4 separate regions of the Homo sapiens genome follow, and all the other regions are linked to region 3. Evidence: fine-mapped expression QTL. A gene starts in region 3. Each other region holds a variant in brackets. All regions are shown on one strand. Distances are between the middles of the regions. Region 1 overlaps UBXN8 (UBX domain protein 8). Region 2 overlaps GSR (glutathione-disulfide reductase). Region 3 holds the start of GSR (glutathione-disulfide reductase). Region 4 overlaps GSR (glutathione-disulfide reductase).

Region 1 (5,149 bases), 35 kb after region 3:
ATGTTAACATTTATCCTGTTTTTATATGTATGTATGTGTATATGCATACACAATCATATATATATATATATATATATATTTTTTTTTTTTTTTAAAGTGACAGGGTCTTGCTTTGTTGCAATGGTTGGCCTTGAACTTCTGAGCTCAAGTGATCTTCCTGCCTCAGCCTCCTGAGTTGCTGGGATTACGGACATGAGCCACTGCATCTGGCTTGCTTTTTTACATAGTGCATTTTTATATATTAGTAATATTTTGGAACATAATAGAAGCAAAATCCTTTAAGTATGTATAGATTGGGAGCTATTATCTCAAATCCTATTTTTATGATTAATTTTTAGCACACTTGCCCAAAAATGTTTATTAATTGAACTATTTTCATTATAAACTCTTTATAGATGTATGAAGAAAAGATATAAGTAAGCTTAGATGTGTGTCTAAACTCTGTATTGAGAGGAACTCTTCTCATTGACACTTTTGCTTGTTGAACATGTTTACATTCCTCTTACCAATACTTTTCTTTAGATTCCTGATTTACCTGAAGAACCTTCTCAAACAGCAGAAGAAGTAAGTCTATTTTTCTCTTCGAAAATTAAACTTATTTTCTATTTTCTTTGCTTAACATCCATTAAATATGTCTTATCTAAACTTGGGTTTAGAAAGAAGTGATAGCATAAGTGTTCATGTGATTATACTGTAACTAGGTCTTTTTTAGAACATAGAGACAGGGTCTCACTATGTTGCCTAGGCTGGCCTTGAACTCCTGGGCTCAAGTGATCCACCCGCCTCAGCCTCCTGGGTAGCTGGGTCTTACTTGGAATGTAGTGTAGTATCAAATTCCTCAACATGAGTACTATTTTGCAAGCCTGCTGTCTGCTGAGTTGTCTTTTTTTTTTTTTGAGATGAAGTCTTGCTCTTGTCACCCAGGCTAGAGTGCAATGGCATGATCTCAGCTCACTGCAGCGTCCGCCTCCTGAGTTCAAGTGATTCTCCTGCCTCAGCCTCCCAAGTAGCTGGGATTACAGGCATCTGCCACCACATCGGGCTAGTTTTTGTATTTTTAGTAGAGACGGGGTTTTACCATGTTGGCCAGGCTGGCCTGGAACTCCTGACCTCAAGTGATCTGCCTGTCTTGACCTCCCAAAGCGCTGGGATTACACCCACCCACTGCCTCAGGCATAGGACACGTGGGCTTTTCCAGAACTTTAGGTCAGAAAATGCGTTGCTTACTAAAACAGAATCAAAATAGGCATATGTCCGAGCACTTTGGGAGGCCAAGAGGGGAGGATTACTTCAGCTTAGGAATTCAAGACCAGCCTGGGCAACATAGTGAGACGCTGTCGCTACAAAAAGGAAAAAAAAAAGGAAAAAAAACTAGGCAAATGACTTCAAATTGCAGTTCTCCTTTTCAAAGGAGAAAATGAAGAGGGCGACTACTTTGTAGATGTTTTAATTTAGGGGTGGTTTGCTGTTGGGGGCTGGGCTGGGACTGATCCCCAACTGTGTCAAGCTGTCTTCTTCCCAGTTGCTGGGTCATAGTCCGTGATGCCTTCCTGTCACTGGCCACCCAACTTATAGACACTTCCTAATGTATGGGGAGCACATACGTGTCTTGAAAGCCATTAAGTCATTTGGGCAATAAATCCAGAAGGAGAACCTACTTCTTGGGGCTCGGCAACAGTTATACTCCTTGGAAACCTTTTTTTTTTTTTTTTTAAAGAGACAGGCTTTTGCTCTGTCTCATAGGCTGGAGTGTCTTGGCACGATCATAGCTGACTGCATCTTCAACCTCTCAGGCTCAAGTGATCCTCCTACCTTAGCGTCCCAAGTAACTAGGACTGCAGGCATGTGCCACCAGCCCTGACTAATTTTTAAATTAAAAAAAAATTTTTTTTGGTAAAGATTGGGTCTCAGTGTTTTGCTCAGGCTGGTCCGACTCCTGGTCTCAAGTGATCCTCTCACCTTGGCCTCCCCAAGTGGTGGGATTATAGGTGTGAGTCACTGTGCCTGATGGGAAAGTTTTTTGTTTTTGTTTTTGTTTTTGTTTTTGAGACTGAGTCTCACCGCATTGCTCAAGCTGGAGTGCAATGGCACAATCTCGGCTCTCTGAAACCTCTGCTTCCGGGTTCAAGCCATTCTCCTGCCTCAGCCTCCTGAGTAGCTAAGACCACAGGTGTACGCCACAATGCCTGGCTAATATTTGTATTTTTAGTAGAGATGGGGTTTCACCGTGTTGGCCAGGCTGGTCACGAACTCCTGACCTCAAGTGATCCGCCCACCTTGGCCCCCCAAAGTGCTGGGATTACAGGCCTGAGCCACCGCACCTGGCCTGATTGGAAATATTTTCTAACATAGCTTTCCTGAGAGGGAGGGGTGCTGCTCTAAAACCACCACTTATGCCTAATATGAT[A/G]CCCACATAACTCCCAGCACAGTTAATGATCATGTTAGTCATAAAGGGTTTCTTGACAGGTGAAAAATAAACACTAATGTGTTATCTTCTCATTTTATAATGTCTTTTTTTTTTTTAAACAGAGTCTTGCTGTGTCATCCAGGCTGGGTGCAGTGGCGTGATCACAGCTTACTGTTGCCTCAGATTCCCTGGGCTCAGGCTATTCTCCCACTTCAACCTCCCAAGTAGCTGGGACTAGAGGCGTGCACCCACATCTAGCTAATTTTTCTATTTTTTATGGCGGGGGGTGTCTCAAACTCCTGGCCTCAAGTGGTCTGCCTGTCTCAGCCTCCCAAAGTCCTGGGATTACAGGCGTGAGCCACCACCATGCCCTACCTATGTCTTTTAATAATTAGCAAAGCAGTATCTAAGTCCTTTTTAGCTGCTTAGCTGTTTTATGGAATGAAAGGAATTGCAAAGAGCAATGGATCGGAGTTCTTATGTGAATATTTCTTCCTTAGGTAGTTACTGTTGCTCTCCGATGTCCCAGTGGGAATGTCCTGAGGAGAAGGTTTTTGAAGTCCTACAGCTCACAGGTAAGTGAAGGAATTCACATTTTGAGAAATATCTTTGTTGAATATGGCAGTAGTTTATTCACATGCCGTGGGGGAAGGTGTGATCACACTGTCATCTGCATCTCCCATCAGGTATGGATAAAGGACATTTCCAGGTACTCCACGTTGCAGAAATTTGGCTAACTAGGCATGCCTGCCGGATGTCTCTGAATTGTGATCTCTGCATTCACATTTTACTCATTCTTTCCCTTTGGTGTATTTTTCCTTTGTTGTTTGCTTTCATTACATTATCATAATTTGATGGGCAAGATGCTTTTAAATCCTTAGGAAGTAGCCACTATTAACTTTAGACTTTTTTTTTTCTTTTAAAAACAATACTGTGGGCTGGGTGCAGTGGCTCATGTCTGTAATCCCAACACTTTGGGAGGCCAAGGCGGGCAGATCACTTGAGGTCAGGAGTTCGAGGCCAGCCTGGCCAACATGGTTAAACCCCATCTCTACTAAAAATAAGAAAATTAGCCGGGCATGGTGGCGGATGCCTGTAATCCCACCTACTCGGGAGGCTGAGGTGGGAGAATCACTTGAACCTGGGAGGCAGAGGTTGCAATGAGCCGAGATCATGCCACTGCACTCCAGCCTGGGTGACAGAGCAAGATCCTGTCTCAAAAATACTAAATAATAAAAACAATACTGTGGTTGTTAGTGATAATTTGGAAAACATGGAAAAGTAGAGCGAGAAAAAAATTTGATCTGTAGTCTCATGCCAAAACCAGTTACTAACATTTTGGTATATTTCCGTCTCTAAGTACATTTAAACATATAATTATGTGTGCATTAAAAATATATGTAAATAATTTTCTGTCCTGTTTGTTGTATTTAACCTTCAATGACAAGAATGCTATAAACCGTAATGGAAAATACTGGATTTGACTACATAAAAATTCCGGCCAGGTGCGGTGGCTCATGCCTGTGAGTAGCTGGGACCAGGCACACACCACCGTTCCTGGCTAATTTTTTATTTTTAGTAGAAATGGGGTTTTGCCATGTTGGCCAGGCTGGTCTCAAACTCCTGGGCTCAAGTGATCCACCCACCTTGGCCTACCCAAGTGTTGGGATTACAGGCGTGACCCACCACGACCAGCCCATTTTACTATTTATGTATGATAGTTATTTTTTATAAGGAACTTAAATCAAGGAAGAGATAAACATCTCAGTAGACTGGCAGGGAAAGAAACACATGAATATCATGATTTCCCGAAGAAGACTCAGTGATAGATAAATATATGAAAAAAATGTTTGGCCTCACATAGAATCAATGAAGTACAAATAAAATGAAACAGTATTTTCTACTTAACTAGACTGTCAAAGATTAAAAAGAAATAGTACCCAGATTTGGCAAATGCGTTGGGAAAACAGGGATTCTTAAAACTTTAATAGTTTTTTGGCCGGGTACCATGGCTCACGCCTGTAATCCCAGCACTTTGGGAGGCTGAGGCAAGCGGATCATGAGGTCAAGAGATCAAGACCATCCTGGCCAACATGGTGAAACCTTGTCTCTACTAAAAATACAAAAATTAGCCGGACGTGGTGGTGCGTGCCTGTAGTCCCAGCTACTCAGGAGGCTGAGGCAGGAGAATCGCTTGAACCCAGGAGGCAGAGGTTGCAGTGAGCCAAGATCGTGCCACTGCACTCCAGTCTGGGAGACAGCAAGACTCCATCACAAAAAACAAAACAAAACAAAACCTTTAATATTTTTTATTTTTTTAAAAATAGAACAGGTCTCACTATGCTGACCAGGCCAATCTTGAACTCCTGGGTTCAAATGATTCTCCTGCCTCATCCTTCCAAAGTGCTGGGATTACAGGTGTGAGCCACTGTGCCTGGCCATCATAACTTGTTAATGTGAATGTAAATAAGATCAGTGTTCCTGACAGATAATTTACCATTATTTTTATTTATTTTTGTAAGATTGGTTCTCACTCTGTCACCAAGGCTGAAGCACAGTGGTGCAATCACAGCTCACTGAAACCTCAACCTCCCCGGACTCAGGTGATCCTTGCACCTCACCTCCTGAGTATCTGGGATTACAGGCATGCACCACCAGGCCTGGCTAATTTTTGTATTTTTTGTAGAGACTGGGTTTCGCCATCTTACCCAGGCTGGTCTCAAATTTCTGTGCCATTATATG
Region 2 (5,149 bases), 32 kb before region 3:
CATTGTCCACTGTCTTCTCCTCACAAAGCTTGCTTCTCTTTTCCTTAAGTCCAGGGAACAGAAATTCTCTTTCCACTTTTCGTATCTCAAGGTCTGCTTTCCCTCTGATATGATTGAAGGGAAGATTTACTAGCAAAATCTTGTCTAGCCATAAATCTCAACAGTATGGCCTTGGAGATATATCTGTGACCATCCACATGTGGAGTTCAGGTGGGAGGTCATGAGTTATTCACAGAGTAGTTCTTTTATTTTTATTTTTTTGAGAGGGAGTCTTGCTCTACCACCCAGGCTGGAGTGCAGTGGTACCATCTCAGCCCACTGCAACCTCCGCCTCCTGGATTCAAGCAATTCTCCCGCCTCATCCTCCCGAGGAGCTGGGATTACAGGCGCCCACCACCATGCCTGGCTAACTTTTCTATTTTTAGTAGAGACGGGGTTTCGCCATGTCGGCCAGGCTGGCCTCGAACTCCTGACCTCAGGTGATCCGCCCACCTAGGCCTCCCAAAGTGCTGGGATTATAGGTGTGAGCCACCATGCCCACCCACAGAGTAGCTCTAAAATGGAGTTAACACTGGGAAAAAAAGGGAGAATGAACTTGGTGCATTTGGGATGGGAGAGGGCAGGAAGCCCAAGTAGATGTGGCTCTCTGCAAAGTAGCCAATTTTACAGATGCAAGAATTACCCCCTTTATTGACAGACTGCTGCAGTTTATTTACTTATCTATATATAAATTCAAGCTAGGAACTCCTCTACCTTTCCCCATCCTTCTAATTTGCTGGATATATTCTAGCAAAATAATACTTACCTATGAAAAAATATTATTCAGGACCTCAATCTCCTGGAGCTAATTATATAACCAGTTTCAAAGCCACAGAGAAAGTTCCTTAAAGTACATACTGCCTAGGATTCTCAGAATCCCTGTCTCCCTCCATCTGCTCACATAAGAATTAGAATCATAGCATCTTGGTAGTCAGGGATCTGATAAATTCTGTCCCTGCAGAACTAGGCCCCAAAGGCATTATGTGGCTTGCCTAAGTCACAAGTTTGTTAGGGACAGTCAGCTGCCCAGGCTAGAGTGCAGTGGCACAATCTTTGCTCACTGCAGCCTTGACCTCCTGGATTCAAGTGATTCTCCTACCTCAGCCTCCCAAGTAGCTGCAACTACAGGCGTATACCACTACACCTTGCTAATTTTTTAATTTTTTGTAGTAGAGATGGGGGTCTCACTATGTTGCCCAGGTTGGTCTTGAACTCCACCTGCTACTTGGGAGGCTGAGGCAGGAGGATAGCTTGAGGCCAGGAGTTCGAGACCAGCCTGGGCAACATAGTAAGACCTCATCTCTAAAAATATATAAAAAGTAGTCAGGTGGCGCATGCCTGTAATCCCAAGCACTTTGGGAGGCCGAGGTGGGCGGATCACTTGAGCTCAGGAGTTTGAGACCAGCCTGGGCAACATGGTGAAACCTCACTGGGTGTGGTGGCATGTTCCTGTAGTCCTGGCTATTTGGGAGGCTGGGGTGGGAAGATCGCTTGAGCCCAGAAGGTTGAGGCTGCAATGAGCCATGATGTGCCACCGCACTCTAGCCTGGGCAACACAGTGAGACTCTGTCTCAAAAAAAAAAAAAAAAAAAAATTAGTCAGGGCATGGTGGCCCACACCTGTAGCCTCAGCTACTTGGAAGGCTGAGGCAGGAAAATCCTATGAGCTCAGAAGGCTGCAGTGAGCTATGATCATGCCACTGTACTGCAGACTGGGTAACATAGCAAGACTCTGTCTCTTAAAAAAAAAAAAAATTTCAAGTGTATGATCTACAAGATTCCCTTTAATGTAAGCTCGTTCGACCTGCAGCCTGCAGGCCGTGTGCGGACCAGGATGACTTTGAATGTGGCCCAACACAAATTTGTACACTTTCTTAAAATGCTATGAGATTTTTTTGCAGTTTTTTTGTTTTGTTTTGTTTTTTGTTTTGAGACAGAGTCTTGCTCTGTTGCCCAGGCTGGAGTGCAGTGGTGCAATCTTGGCTCTCTGCAACCTCTGCCTCTTGGGTTCAGGCGATTCTTATGCCTCAGCCTCCCGTGTAGCTGTGATTAGTTGCCTGCCACCATGCCTGGATAATTTTTGGATTTTTAGTAGAGATGGGGTTTCACCATGTTGGCCAGGCTGGTCTCCAACTCCTGACCTCAAGTGATCCGCCCGCCTCAGCCTCCCAAAGTGCTGGGAATTAGAGGCGTGAGCCACTGTGCCCAGTCTGCAATTTATTTTTTTATTAGCTCATCAGCTATTGTTTGTGTTAGTGTATTTTATGTGTAGTCCAAGACAATTCTACTCCTTCCAGTGTGGCTCAGGGAAGCCAAAAGATTGGACACCCCTGCTTTAATGCAAAGAATTTAGTAAATTGTTTAGAATGAGTGGTAACAATCTAACATTACTTGATCATATAAAATTGATTTCCAGAAATTAATAAATTAACCTGGCGGGGCTTGGTGGCTCACACCTGTAATCCCAGCACTTTGGGAGGTCGAGGTGGGTGGATCACCTGAGGTAGGGAGTTCGAGACCAGCCTGGCCAACATGGTGAAACCCCATCTCTACTAAAAATACAAAAATTAGTTGGGCATGGTGGTGGAT[A/G]CCTGTAATCCCAGCTACTTGGGAGGCTGAGGCATGAGACTCGCTTGAGCCCAGGAGGCAGAGGTTGCAGTGAGCCGAGATGGTGCCACTGCACTCCAGCCTGGACAAAAGAGTGAGACTCTGTCTCAAAAAATAAAAATAAAAAAATAAATTAACCTAACAGTCTGTTTAATTTAGCTAATAGTTATGTTTAGGCCCCACGTCTCCCTATGAGGGCATCTCATGACTATCTACCACTTAGTGATGAAATTACCAGCCAATTTGACCAACTCAAAATTATCATCATCAACCAGCAACTGGGAGGGATATAGGCCAAATTCAGGTAACTTGGATACAGCACCATATGAAACCAACCAAATGACCCCCACACCTGCTTTGCACCCTAGTATTTAACGACAACATAAGAAAAAATTCTTCATTTTTTAAATTAACATCAAGAAAAGCGAAAAGAAAAAGGTGGCATTTACCTTATCATGCCGTATCATCAGTGATGTCTTAGAACCCAGGGCTGACAGGATCCCTGCCATCTCCACAGCAATGTAACCTGCACCAACAATGACGCTGCGGCTGAGACGCGAGCAGAGGGTTAGTATTCTTAAATAAACTAATTTTGGAATAATTTCACGTTTACAGAAAAGTTGCAGAGATAGTACAGAGATTTCCCTTATTATACCCCTTGATCAGTTTTCCCTAAAGTTAATATTTTACTTAATTAGGATACCTTTGTCAAAATAAGAAATTGACATTGGTACATTACTAATGACTAAACCCTAGACTGCAGATTTTCACTTTTTCCCTTTTTTTTGAGACAGGGTCTCTGTCACCCAGGCTGGAGTGTAGTGGTGTGAACACGGCTCACTGCAGCCTCAACCTCCAGGACTCAAGCCATCCTCCAGCCTCAGCCTCCTGAGTAGCTGGGACTACAGACATTCATCGCCACACCCAGCTAAGTTTTATATTTTCTTTTGTAGAGACAGAGTCTCACCATGTTAGCCCAGGCTAGTCTTAGCTCCTGGGCTCAAGCAATGCTCTTACCTTGGCCTCCCAAAGTGCCGGCATTACAGGTGTAAGCTACCTTGCCTAGCCCAGTTTTTCTATTAATCTTTTTTTTTTTCTGTTCCAAGATCCAATCCTGGATACCACTGCAACTTTAAGTAGAAAATATTCCTTTGAGCCTGGGCAATAAAGTGAGACCCCATCTCTACAAAAACATAAAAGTAAGGCCAGGCACGGTGGCTCATGCCCATAATCCTAGCACTTTGGGAGGCTGAGGTGGGTGGATCACCTGGTCAGGAGTTCGAGACCAATCTGGCCAACATGGTGAACCCCGTCTCTACTAAAAATACAAAAAGTTAGCCAGGTGCAGTGGTGTGTGCCTGTAATCCCAGCTACTCGGGAGGCTGAGGCAGGAGAATCGCTTGCCCTTAGGAGGCAGAGGATGCAGTAAGCCAAGATTGCACCAATGCACTCCAGCCTGGGAAACAGAGCGAGACTCTGTCTCAAAAAAACAAAACAAACAAACAAACAAACAAACAAACAAAAAACCCCTAAAAGTAAAAATAAAAATTATCCAAGTATGATGGTCCATGTCTGTGGTCCCAGTTACTTGAGAGGCTGAGGCAGGAGGATAACTTGTGTCTGGGAGGTGGAGGCTGCAGTGAGCTATGACTATACCACTGCAGTCCAGCCTGGGTGACAGAGCAAAAGACCCTATCTCAAAAGAAAAGAAAAATCCCTAATATCCCGTCACAGAAGGGAAATGTATTTTTCATTGTTTTTAAAGCTCTTTAGCCTCATTTCTTCAGAGAGGAAAAAACTCTGTGCAGAGACAATATCTCCCTATGTTGCCCAGGCTGGTCTCGAACTCCTAGGCTCAAGTGATCCTCCGGCCTGAGCCTCCCAAGTAGCCAAGACTACCAGCATGTGCCAACACACCCAGCTAATTTTTGTATTTTTTTTGCAGAGATCGGGTTGTGCTGTGTTGCCTAGGCTGGTTTCAAACTCCTGGGCTCAAGAAATTCGCTCGCCTCAGGCCTCCCAAAGTGCTGAGATTACAGGCATAAGCCACTGTGCCTGGCTTCTGGAACTGATCTTTCAGGCGGCTGAATCCCTAAAAGATTTCTCTTTACCTCGTTGCAGCCCCAGGACTACTCATGCACAGTATTCCACAAGGTTCATGCTCCATCCAAACAGAAGCCCCCTCAGTGCAAAAACTAAATCATGCTATCTTCCCTACATTATTTATGTACTTGCCCAGTTATTACTTATTCACCAACACCGTAACAAAGATAAAGTAGACTTGAAGAATCACGTATCAATCGTAAATTCATTTTCTTGTGTTTCAGAGCCTTTTGTTGATGACATGCATAAATGTAAATATTTAAAATTGCTAATGAACAGCTATTTATAATGAAACTTCTTTGAGGGTGAGTCCGGAATGAAATTACATTATCCAAACATAATGAGTCATGACTGTATGTCTCACTACATCCTCACATATGTCATGTCACTCAACCCTAAAA
Region 3 (5,149 bases):
GGCACCTGTAATCTCAGCAATTTGGGAGGCCGAGGCAGGAGAGTTGCTTGAACCCAGGAGGCGGAGGTTGCAGTGAGCCGAGATTGCACCACTGCACTCCAGCCTGGGTGACAGAGCAAGACTCCATATCGAAAAAAAAATAGATAAATACATTTTAAAAATAAAAAATTAGCTGGGTGTGGTGGCTCATGCTTGTAATCCAAGCACTTTGGGAGGCCAAGGTGGGTGGATTACCAGAGGTCAGGAGTTTGAGACCAGCCTGGCCAACATGGCAAAACCCCATCTCTATTAAAAGTACAAAAACTAGCCGGGCATGGTGGCATGCACCTGCATTCCCAGCTACTCGAGAGGCTGAGACGGGAGAACTGCTTGAACCTGGGAGGCAGAGGTTGCAGTGAGCCCAGATTGCACCACTGTACTCCAGCCTGGGTGACAGAGTGAGACTCCCTCTCAAAAAAAAAAAAAAAAAAAGAATTCATAACAGGAAGGTAAAGTGGGTGAACCTCTGAAGCACATTATAACATAAGTAGAGAAAGAGGAAGACAGAGAAAATGTGGAGAGCAGAACAGAAGTGAGAAGTGATCAAGTACTCTCATGAGGTGTGGGAGGGGGGCACTTAGTGGCACCCCACAATCTGCCTTCTGGAGAGACAGATTTCTAACCTTCTGTCTGGACTATGGTGTCAAAGTGCAAGTTGATAATTAACAGAGATTTTTCCTTTCTCTTCATCTCCATGTTCATCTCCAAGGCACTGAACAATGAAGTCAACCTTTTCATAACTGTCCATTTTTAGTTTCATTCATTGCACAAGTGCTTATTGAGCAAGGGATTTTAAGGTGATAAGAGACACACAAACACAGAAGCCCATCCCTGTCCTTAAAGAGCTCCCAATTTGACATAATTTAAATATTCATCTCCAAAGGAATTTAGAGAACCTATCCCAAATCCCAGGTTCCTCTTGGATACAGCATTTTAATCGTCAACACCCAAATCTTGTGATAGAAAAGGGCGGGCACACCAATAACTTGGAAACAACATTTATTTTTAGAATGAGTGCAGTGGCTCAGGCTTGTAATCCCAGCACTTTGGGAGGCTGAGGCGGGAAGATCGGTTGAGTCCAAGAGGTTGAAATCAGCAAGGGCAACATAGCGAGACCCCCATCTCTACAAAAAATAATAATAATTAACTAGGCGTGGTGATTAGCCCCCTGTAGTTCCAGCTACTCAGGAGGCCAAGGTGAGAGGATCCCTTGAGCCCGGGAGTTCGAGGCTGCAGTGAGCTATGATGGCCACTGCACTCTAGCCTAGGTGACAGGGCAAGACCCTGTCTCAAAAAACAAACACAAACAAAAACCCTTATTTTCAAAAATTATGAATTTTGTAAATCTCAGGATTTACATCCCTCTGTTTTTAGTTTTGCAATCCACATAAAACCAAGACAAAACAAAAGCTCTGAGAACTCACCTACTCAAGGTCGCCTTGGCTGCAATTCAGATCACCCGAAAATCCCAAAGCCCAGGCTGCACTTCAGACCAATTAAGTCGGGAAACATCCCAAAGCCCAAGTGCACCTCAGACCAATTAAGTCGGGAATCCAGGCACCCTCAGGTGATTCGAATGTGTAGCCAAGGTTGACAACAACCGCTATAAATCATTCTGCCCTTGAAACGGGAGAACCAGGATCTACATTTTTCAAGAACCAGGATCTATGGCACCGTCACCCTCGTCCCTACACACAGGCCACCAGCAATGTTCCCAGATGCAGTTTTGTGTTTCACGCGGTCAAGAACAGAATCCAATCCTCTCCCACTTGGACAAGTGAGGATGGAGGAAGGTTAATCTAACCCGCCCCGGCCCTGGTCAATATCGCATCCGTGCGGAAGCAGACGCTGGCTCGGCTTTGCGGGCCGCAGAGAAGCCCCCGGACGCCTCTCTCTCCTCCACCTGCTGGGTTCCTGGCTTCGGAATGGGGAGTTGCGGGGGTGGAAAAGAGGAAAGCCCAGCGCCGGGGGACAGGATCGCCATAGGAACGAGCACAGGCTGTCCCCCGAAAGACCGAGACAAAGAGGCGCCCCCCGCCCGAACAAACCGGCGGTACTCACGCAAGTGCCACCCAGCTTGTGGCTCTCCACCACGGCGGCCCTGGCACCCAGCTCGGCCGCCCTGCGCGCGCTGGCCAGCCCGCCCGAGCCGCCCCCGATCACCAGGTAGTCATAGGAGGCCACGGCGCCAGCAGCGGGCGGCGGGCCCTGCGGCTGCGGCTCCTGCCTGCAGGCCATGGCACGGGAGAGGGCGCGCGTGAGGGCCGCGGGCTCGGGCAGAAGCAGCAGGAAGCCTCGGAAGGCGCGCGCCGCCCGCCGCCAGCTCGGTCCCGCGCCGGCGCTCAGGGCTCGGGGCAGCAGGGCCATGCACGCGGAAGTGGCGCGCCAAGTGGGGCGGGCGGCCCGGGGGCGGTCCCCGGGGTAGGGGGGCGCGGGCCCCGGGCAAGCGCAGCCTCACGGTGACTAAGCATGCGCCCGCCGCTAGGCAAGACCCAGGAGGATGCCCAGAGGCGGGGCCGCCTCCCAGTTCCCCGCCCCGGTGGCGGAGCCTGAGGGGTTTCTCCGCCTCCGTTCTCACCCCGGCCCCTGGATCCCGAGCGGCGCCTGCCGCGTGTAGCCTTCTGAAGTCCGGTGGATCGAGGCGAGGAACGGTGAACGTCCTCTCGTTTCAGCTGGCTTTTCCCGAGCTGGCCCCCTGGGGAGTTGCCAGTGGCACGGCTTCTCCAGGAAGAGAAATTTGCCTCTATTCGAAGGGTTGTTTGTCCAGGTTTGTTCCAGAGACCACTTTTGTTTGTTCTTGCTTTTTCTTTGAGACTGGGTCTCACTCTCCCCCAGGCAGGGGTGCAGTGATGCGATCTCTGCTCACTGCAGCCTCCACCTACTGTGCTCAAGCAGCGATCCTCCCTCCTCAGCCTTCCCGGTAGCTGGGAACTACAGGTGCCCGCCACAGCGCCCAGCTAATTTATTTATTTATTTATTTAATTTTTTTTTTTATTTTTTTTATTATTTTTATTTTTTTTTTAGAAATAGGGTCTCACTATGTTACCAGGACTGGTAGGGAACTCTTGGCCTCAAGCGATTCTCTCACCTCGGCCTCCCAAAATGCTAGGATTATGGTATGAGGTCACCACTTCTCCTGTTGTCCTTCTCAGTTTCTCCCCAACCTCCCCTTTTCCCTAGTTTATAAGACAGGAGAAAAGGGAGAAAGCAAAAAGTTGGAAAGAAACAGAAGTAAGATAAATAGCTAGACGACCTTGGCACCACCACCTGGCCCTGGTGGCTAAGATAATAATAATATTATTAACCCCTGACCAAAACTATTGGTGTTATCTGTAAATTCCAGACATTGTATGAGAAAGCACTGTAAAACTTTTTGTTCTGTTAGCTGATGTATATAGCCCCCAGTCACGTTTCCCACGCTTACTTGATCTATTATGATTTTTTCACGTAGACCCCTTAGAGTTGTAAGCCCTTAAAAGGGCTAGGAATTTCTTTTTCGGAGAGCTCGGCTCTCAAGACGCGAGTCTGCCAACGCTCCTGGCCGAATAAAAAACCTCTTCCTGCTTTAATCTGGTGTCTGAGGAGTTTTGTCTGTGACTCATCCTGCTATATTTCTTGGTTCCCTGACTGGGAAGCGAGGTAATTGACGGACAGTCGAGGCAGCCCCTTAGGGGGCTTAGGCCTGCCCTGTGGAGCATCCCTGCGGGGAACTCCCGCCAGCTTGAGCGACGCGGATCCTGCGAGCGCTCCTGGGTAGGCAATTGCCCCGGTGGAACGCCTAGTCAGAGCAGTGCGTGGCAGGCCCCCGTGGAGTATCAACGCAGTGGCTGAACACCGGGAAGGAACAGGCACTTGGAGTCCGGACATTTGAAACTTGGTAAGACTGGTCTTCGGAACTTGCCCACTCCATTTGAGTGGAAGCATGGCCTGATCACCCACGGCGTGCCTGTACTGGCACTTTGGTTTTTGTTTTTGACTTGACTTGAATTGCTTGACACTTTGGTTTTGGTTTGACCTGGCTTGGATTACTGGATACTCTGATTTTGGTTTTGATTCTGGTTTGGTGAAAACTGAAAAAGTGCGTGTGTGCCCTTTTTACCCATTCTTTGTTTTGTGGTGTGCGTTTGGTGTGAGCTTGGTGTTTTGTCTTGAGGAAACACGGGTCAGACACAAAATAAGCCTACTCCTCTAGGAACTATGTTGAAAAATTTTAAGAAGGGATTTAATGGCGACTATGGGGTTACTATGACACCAGGGAAACTTAGAACTTTGTGTGAAATAGATTGGCCAACATTAGAAGTGGGTTGGCCATCAGAAGGAAGCCTGGACAGGTCCCTTGTTTCTAAGGTATGGCACAAGGTAACTGGTAAGTCAGGACACTCAGACCAGTTTCCATACATAGACACTTGGTTACCACAGTGGGTAAGAGGGCAGGCAGCAGCAGTGCTAGTAGCAAAGGGACAGATAGTCAAGGAAGGATCCCGCTCCACCCACCGAGGGAAATCAACTCCTGAAGTTCTGTTCGACCCAACATCAGACGATCCATTGCAGGAGATGGCAAAAGTCATCCCAGTGGTGCCCTCCCCTTACCAGGGAGAGAGGCTCCCCACTTTTGAGTCCACAGTGCTTGTGCCTCCGCAAGACAAACATATCCCTAGGCCACCCAGAGTAGACAAGAGAGGAGGTGAAGCCTCAGGAGAAACCCCTCCCTTGGCAGCTCGTTTAAGACCCAAAACGGGGATACAAATGCCCTTGAGAGAGCAGCGGTATACTGGAATAGATGAGGATGGGCACATGGCGGAGAGGCGTGTTTTTGTGTGCCAGCCCTTCACCTCTGCCGACCTTCTCAACTGGAAAAACAATACCCCGTCCTGTACTGAAAAGCCACAAGCTCTAATTGATTTGCTCCAAACTATTATCCAGACCCATAACCCCACTTGGGCTGATTGCCACCAGTTGCTCATGTTCCTCTTTAACACAGATGAAAGGCGGAGAGTGCTCCAAGCAGCAACTAAGTGGCTAGGGGAACATGCACCGGCTGATTACCAAAACCCCCAAGAGTATGTAAGGACCCAGTTACCGGGAACCGACCCCCAGTGGGACCCAAATG
Region 4 (5,149 bases), 50 kb before region 3:
GTCATCCTGTGCTTAATTGCTTTATTTGTATAGAAATGTTCTCATTCTAGATTATAAGATTACTTGAAAGCAAGTTACATGTCTTTCCTTCAATAAACATCTACTGTGCAAGTACAATGTGGCCCATATTTTACAACGTGCTGCCTTGTATATCTTTTTTTTTTTTTTTTTGAGACGGAGTCTCTCTCTGTCACCCAGGCTGGAGTGCAGTGGTGTGATCTTGGCTCACTGCAAGCTCCGCCTCCTGGGTTCACACCATTCTCCTGCCTCAGTCTCCCAAGTAGCTGGGACTACAGGCGCCCACCACCATGCCCGGCTAATTTTTTTGTATTTTTAGTAGAGACAGGGTTTCACCATGTTAGCCAGGATGGTCTCGATCTCATGACTTCGTGATCTGCCCACCTCGACCTCCCAAAGTGCTGGGATTGCAGGTGTGAGCCACCGCGCCCAGCATTTTTTTTTTTTTTTTTGAGATGGAGTCTCACACTATTGCCTGGGCTGGAGTGCAGTGGTGCCATCTTGGCTCACTGTGACCTGTGCCTCCTAGGTTCAAGCGATTCTCCTATCTCAGCCTCCTGAGTAGCTGGGATTACAGATGCCAGCCACCACGCCTAGCTAATTTTTGTATTTTTAGTAGAGATGGGGTTTCATCATGTTGGCCAGGCTGGTCTCGAACCCCTGACCTCAGGTGATCCACCTGTCTTGGCCTCCCAAAGTGCTGGGATTATAGGTGTGAGCTGCTATATATTTCTTGGCACTTTCAGTAATAGAGGCTGTTAAGCCACAACACCTCAAGGGCTGGGCCAGTTCAAGGACCGATGAGAATGCAGACAGGAACTCAGATAAGGGTACTGTACTTTCTTGTTGGTTTACTATGGAACCAGCACACAGGCAGGATAAATATGAGATTAAGAACACATGATGTTAAAATAGATGTGGCTACTAGGGCCTCCCATTTCCCTGACAGAGGCACACCTCAAGGCTGGGGCCTGTGCAGTGAGAAATCCACCAGCAGAATGAAGCCTAGAACCTTGGTCCACTGTCTTTTAGGCTAGGGGAAGAGGGGAGAAGTGCCTACATTAGTCCATGCCCAAGTTTGGGGATCCTATTTTCTTGTCCCACCACAATACATATAACTTCCTTGCTAATACAATATTTTTCTTTCATTGACATTGGGCCTACTTAAGAAGTCAGTGCAGGCCGGATGTGGTGGCTCACGCCTGTAATCTCAGCACTTTGGGAGGCCGAGGTGGGCAGATTACTTCTAAGGTCAGGAGTTCAAGACCAGCCTGGCCAACACGGTGAAAACCCATCTCTACTAAAAGTACAAGAATTAGCCAGGTGTGGTGGTGTGCACCTGTAGTCTCAGCTACTCAGGAGGCTGAGGCAGGAGAATCGCTTGACCCCGGGAGGCAGAGGCTGCAGTGAGCCGAGATCGTGCCACTGTACTCCAGCCTAGGCAACAGAGCCAGGCTTGGTTTCAAAAAAAAAAAAAAAAGTCAGTTCAGTAACTGGCCATCACTAACCAGAAAGACAGTCAGTAAAAGCTTAACAGAACACACAGTAAAGAATTCAGTGGGTCCAGTGCAGTGGCTCACGCCTGTAATCCCAGCACTTTGGGAGGCCAAGGCGGGCAGATCACGAGGTCAACAGATCAAGACCATCCTGGCCAACATGGTGAAACCCCATCTCTACTAAAAATACAAAAATTAGCTGGGTGTGGTGGCGCGTGCCTGTGATCCCAGCTACTCAGGAGGCTGAGGCAGGAGAACTGCTTGACCCCGGGAGGCTGCAGTGACCTGAGATCACACCACTGCACCCCAGCCTGGCGACAAAGCTAGACCCTGTCTCAAAAAAAAAAAAAAAAGTATTCAGTAACACTGGATGACTAATGAAAATCCTGGAAAAATTTAACTAGCTGGTAAAACCTAATAGAAATAAAGTGTTAAAGACCTAAGTGATTTCTAGGCTTTTCTTCCAACTCAATCATTAATCTGCTAAATGTTTCTTTTATACCTTCGATCTTTATTTTTATACGAGAACTCTCTTTTCACCCCCGTAAGCACAGGCAACTGATTCTCCAATGTGAAATATCCTTAGAAAATAAACCAATTTCCTGTGTACCAATTAAAGCTCACAGTAACAAATTTTATAAGAAGAAAAGGCTGTAATTTTATTTTCAAATTTTTGGAAGTTTTTCAGAAAAAAATAAAATGACAAGAACACATA[C/A]AAATATTGAAATTATTCATTGAACTATAAACACTTAGCAGAGGAAGGGACTTTTGATGTATTTGAATCCACCTCCTTCTGAAAGCAGGAATCACTTCTAAATGTCTCTCATATCTTTCTTCAAGGAGTGGTTTTCCAGGAGGTTCCCAGCCTCCTCAAATCTTTCCCAAGTTTGATGCACTTCACCTCATAAAAATAATATATATATATATATATATTTTTTTTTTTTTTTTTTGAGACAGGGTCTTGCTCTGTTGTCCAAGATTGAGTGCAGCAGCATGATCAGGACTCACTGCAGCCTCACCTCACCCAAGCTCAAGTGATCCTCTCACCTCAGCCTCCCAAGTAGCTGAGATTACAGATGCACATCACCACACTCGGGTAATTTTTTTTACTCTCTGTAGAGATGCAGTCTTGCTATGCTGTGCATGCTGGCCTCAAACTTGTAGGCTCAAGTAATCCTCCTGCCTCGGCCTCCCAAAGTGCTAGAATTACAGGCCTGAGCCACCGTGCCTTGCCACAAACTATTTTTAATCATTAAAAAAGAAAAAAGAAAATAAGGCAGGCCGGCTTCTCACATTACATGCTTTTAGAAAAAGGTCTCATCCTTGAAGCAGCTTTGTTATATGCAGAGCACAGTACTGGCTTCAAAAAATATATAAAGGTTCTGTGCACTGGCACTGTTTACATGTGAAGAATTGCCATCAACTTCTGTGAAAATTAGCAAGCTGGCACAGTGGCTCACGCCTGTAATCTCAGCACCTCAGGAGGCCGAGGTGGGCGGATCACCTGAAGGTGGGAGTTTGAGACCAGCCTGACCAACATGGAGAAACCCCATGTCTACTAAAAATACAAAATTAGTCAGGCATGGTGGTGCGTGCCTGTAATTCCAGCTATTCGGGAGGCTAAGGCAGGAGAATCACTTGAACCCAGGAGGCAGAGGTTGTGGTGAGCTGAAATAGCACCACCGCACTCCAGCCTGGGCAATGAGAGCAAAACTCTGTCTCAAAAAAAAAAAAAAAAAAAGTAGCAAGTTCTATTCATTCAAGTACATTAAGTTAATTGTACTTCACAAAGCTTTATATTTGGGATGAGGCTAAAACAGAAAAAAAAAACTAGCACAGAGCTGTTAATAAAAAAAAAACTTGAAAATATTAATTACTGTGAGATGTGATCAAATGAAAATCAATCCTGGATAACACTACAAATTTCTAACTCCATAAATAAGTTCTATTATGTACTAAAAATTTCCACTATCAGAAGATCCTGATTAAAATAAAGAAATACATAAAACTCAAACAGTAAGTCAATGTGATTATTTGTTTCATTTCAGAAGATCTATGGGTCCCACTGCCCGCCACACGTGTCTCCTGGTTCTCAACGAAGTGTGACCAGCTCTTCTGAAGAGGTAGGGTGAATGGCGACTGTGTTGTCAAAGTCTGCCTTCGTTGCTCCCATCTTCACTGCAACAGCAAAACCCTGCAGCATTTCATCACACCCAAGTCCCTGCATATGGATCCCAACCACCTGGGAAAAGAAGAGAAACATTTTCTTTTCTTTCTTCTTTTTTTTTTTTTTTTGAGACGGAGTTTCACTCTTGTTGCCCAGGCTGGAGTGCAATGGCATGATCTCGGCTCGCTGCAACCTCCACCTCCCGGGTTCAAGTGATTCTCCTGCCTCAGCCTCCCGAGTAGCTGGGATTACAGGCGCGCACCACCACGCCTGGCTAATTTTGTATTTTTAGCAGAGAGAGGGTTTCACCATGTTGGCCAGGCTGGTCTTGAACTCCTGGGCTCAAGTGATCCACCCACCTCAGCCTCCCAAAGTGCTGGGATTACAGGGGTGAGCCACGGTGTCTGACTGATATTGTGATCTTAATTGAACTTATAAAGAGCCTCTGGTGATGGCCAGCTCTTCATATTATTCCTCTCTATATAGCAGTTCTTAGTCTTGAGAAGAATGACAAATAATGTTTATCAACTGAATGAATGATAACTGGCATGAAGAAATAACTAAGTAGGAGCCTTCATGATTCAATATCCAGAAATCATAGGCTACTGAGGAATGTTCATGGCACCACCATGCCCGGCCAATTTTTGTATTTTTAGTAGAGATGGGGTTTCACCATGCTGCCCAAGCTACTCTCAAACTCCTGAGCTCAGGCAATCCGCCTACCTTGGCCTCCCAAAGTGTTAGGATTATAGGCGTGAGCCACAGCGCCTGGCCCTGGCCTCTCCTGTTTTTTTTTTTTTTTTTTTTTTTTTTGCTTTGAGATGGAGTCTCGCTTTGTCTCCCAGGCTGGAGGGCAGTAGCATGATCTTGGCTCACTGCAACCTCCGCCTCCCAGGTTCAAGTGATTCTCCTGCCTCAGCCTCCCGAGTAGCTGGGATTACAAGCACGCACCATCATGCCTGGCTAATTTTTGTGTTTTTAGTAGAGACAGGGTTTCACCACGTTGGTCAGGCTAGTCTCAAACTCCTGACCTCAGGTGATATGCCTGCCTCGGCCTCCCAGCGTGCTGGGATTACAGGTGTGAGCCACCACGCCTGGCATCGTCTTTATTTTTTAAAAGGAGTGGAACCTCCTTCTAGATGAAATATTATGAAGAACCCCAAAATGCAGGTAAGACAGATCAAAGTGGGCCTGTCCAGTTGAATCAGAAGGCTCAACTGCTTGGTCTCCCTCCTTTCCACCCCTGCAAAATACTGCCATCCCTGTCCATTTTGCAAGGCACTATTTAGTTTGCTGGATTTTTCCTTACCTTTTCTTCCTTGTTAGCACAGACCATTTTCATCACACATTTTGTTTTCCTTTTGGTAACTGCGTGATACATCGGGGTAAAGCTCGTTGAATAGGTCTTCACATTTTCTATTCCATATTTATGAATGGCTTCATCTACAATGCACATTAAAAAAAGCAT

The links.
Region 1: its variant is fine-mapped to the expression of GSR in whole blood (TOPMed, PIP 0.98).
Region 2: its variant is fine-mapped to the expression of GSR in whole blood (TOPMed, PIP above 0.99).
Region 4: its variant is fine-mapped to the expression of GSR in whole blood (TOPMed, PIP above 0.99).

Annotation. Positions count from the first base shown.
Region 1 is chr8:30,760,366-30,765,514 of GRCh38, forward strand. It overlaps UBXN8 (UBX domain protein 8), which reads left to right. Exons shown (of 8, transcript NM_005671.4): 6 at 523-564; 7 at 2,908-2,982. Among named protein-coding and RNA genes, the nearest start is that of UBXN8, 19 kb to the left of the region's middle. The variant A/G (reference allele first, on the strand shown) is at 2,408.
Region 2 is chr8:30,693,286-30,698,434 of GRCh38, forward strand. It overlaps GSR (glutathione-disulfide reductase), which reads right to left. Exons shown (of 13, transcript NM_000637.5): 7 at 3,095-3,194. Among named protein-coding and RNA genes, the nearest start is that of GSR, 32 kb to the right of the region's middle. The variant A/G (reference allele first, on the strand shown) is at 2,628.
Region 3 is chr8:30,725,430-30,730,578 of GRCh38, forward strand. GSR (glutathione-disulfide reductase) reads right to left here and starts at 2,417. Exons shown (of 13, transcript NM_000637.5): 1 at 2,101-2,417. The coding sequence starts at 2,406. It also overlaps a transcript of UBXN8 not described here. RefSeq lists enhancers at 1,315-2,002, 3,765-4,289 and silencers at 2,078-2,517, 2,588-2,677.
Region 4 is chr8:30,675,914-30,681,062 of GRCh38, forward strand. GSR (glutathione-disulfide reductase) reads right to left here. Exons shown (of 13, transcript NM_000637.5): 12 at 4,991-5,124; 13 at 2,153-3,756. The coding sequence ends at 3,607. Among named protein-coding and RNA genes, the nearest start is that of GTF2E2, 20 kb to the left of the region's middle. The variant C/A (reference allele first, on the strand shown) is at 2,230.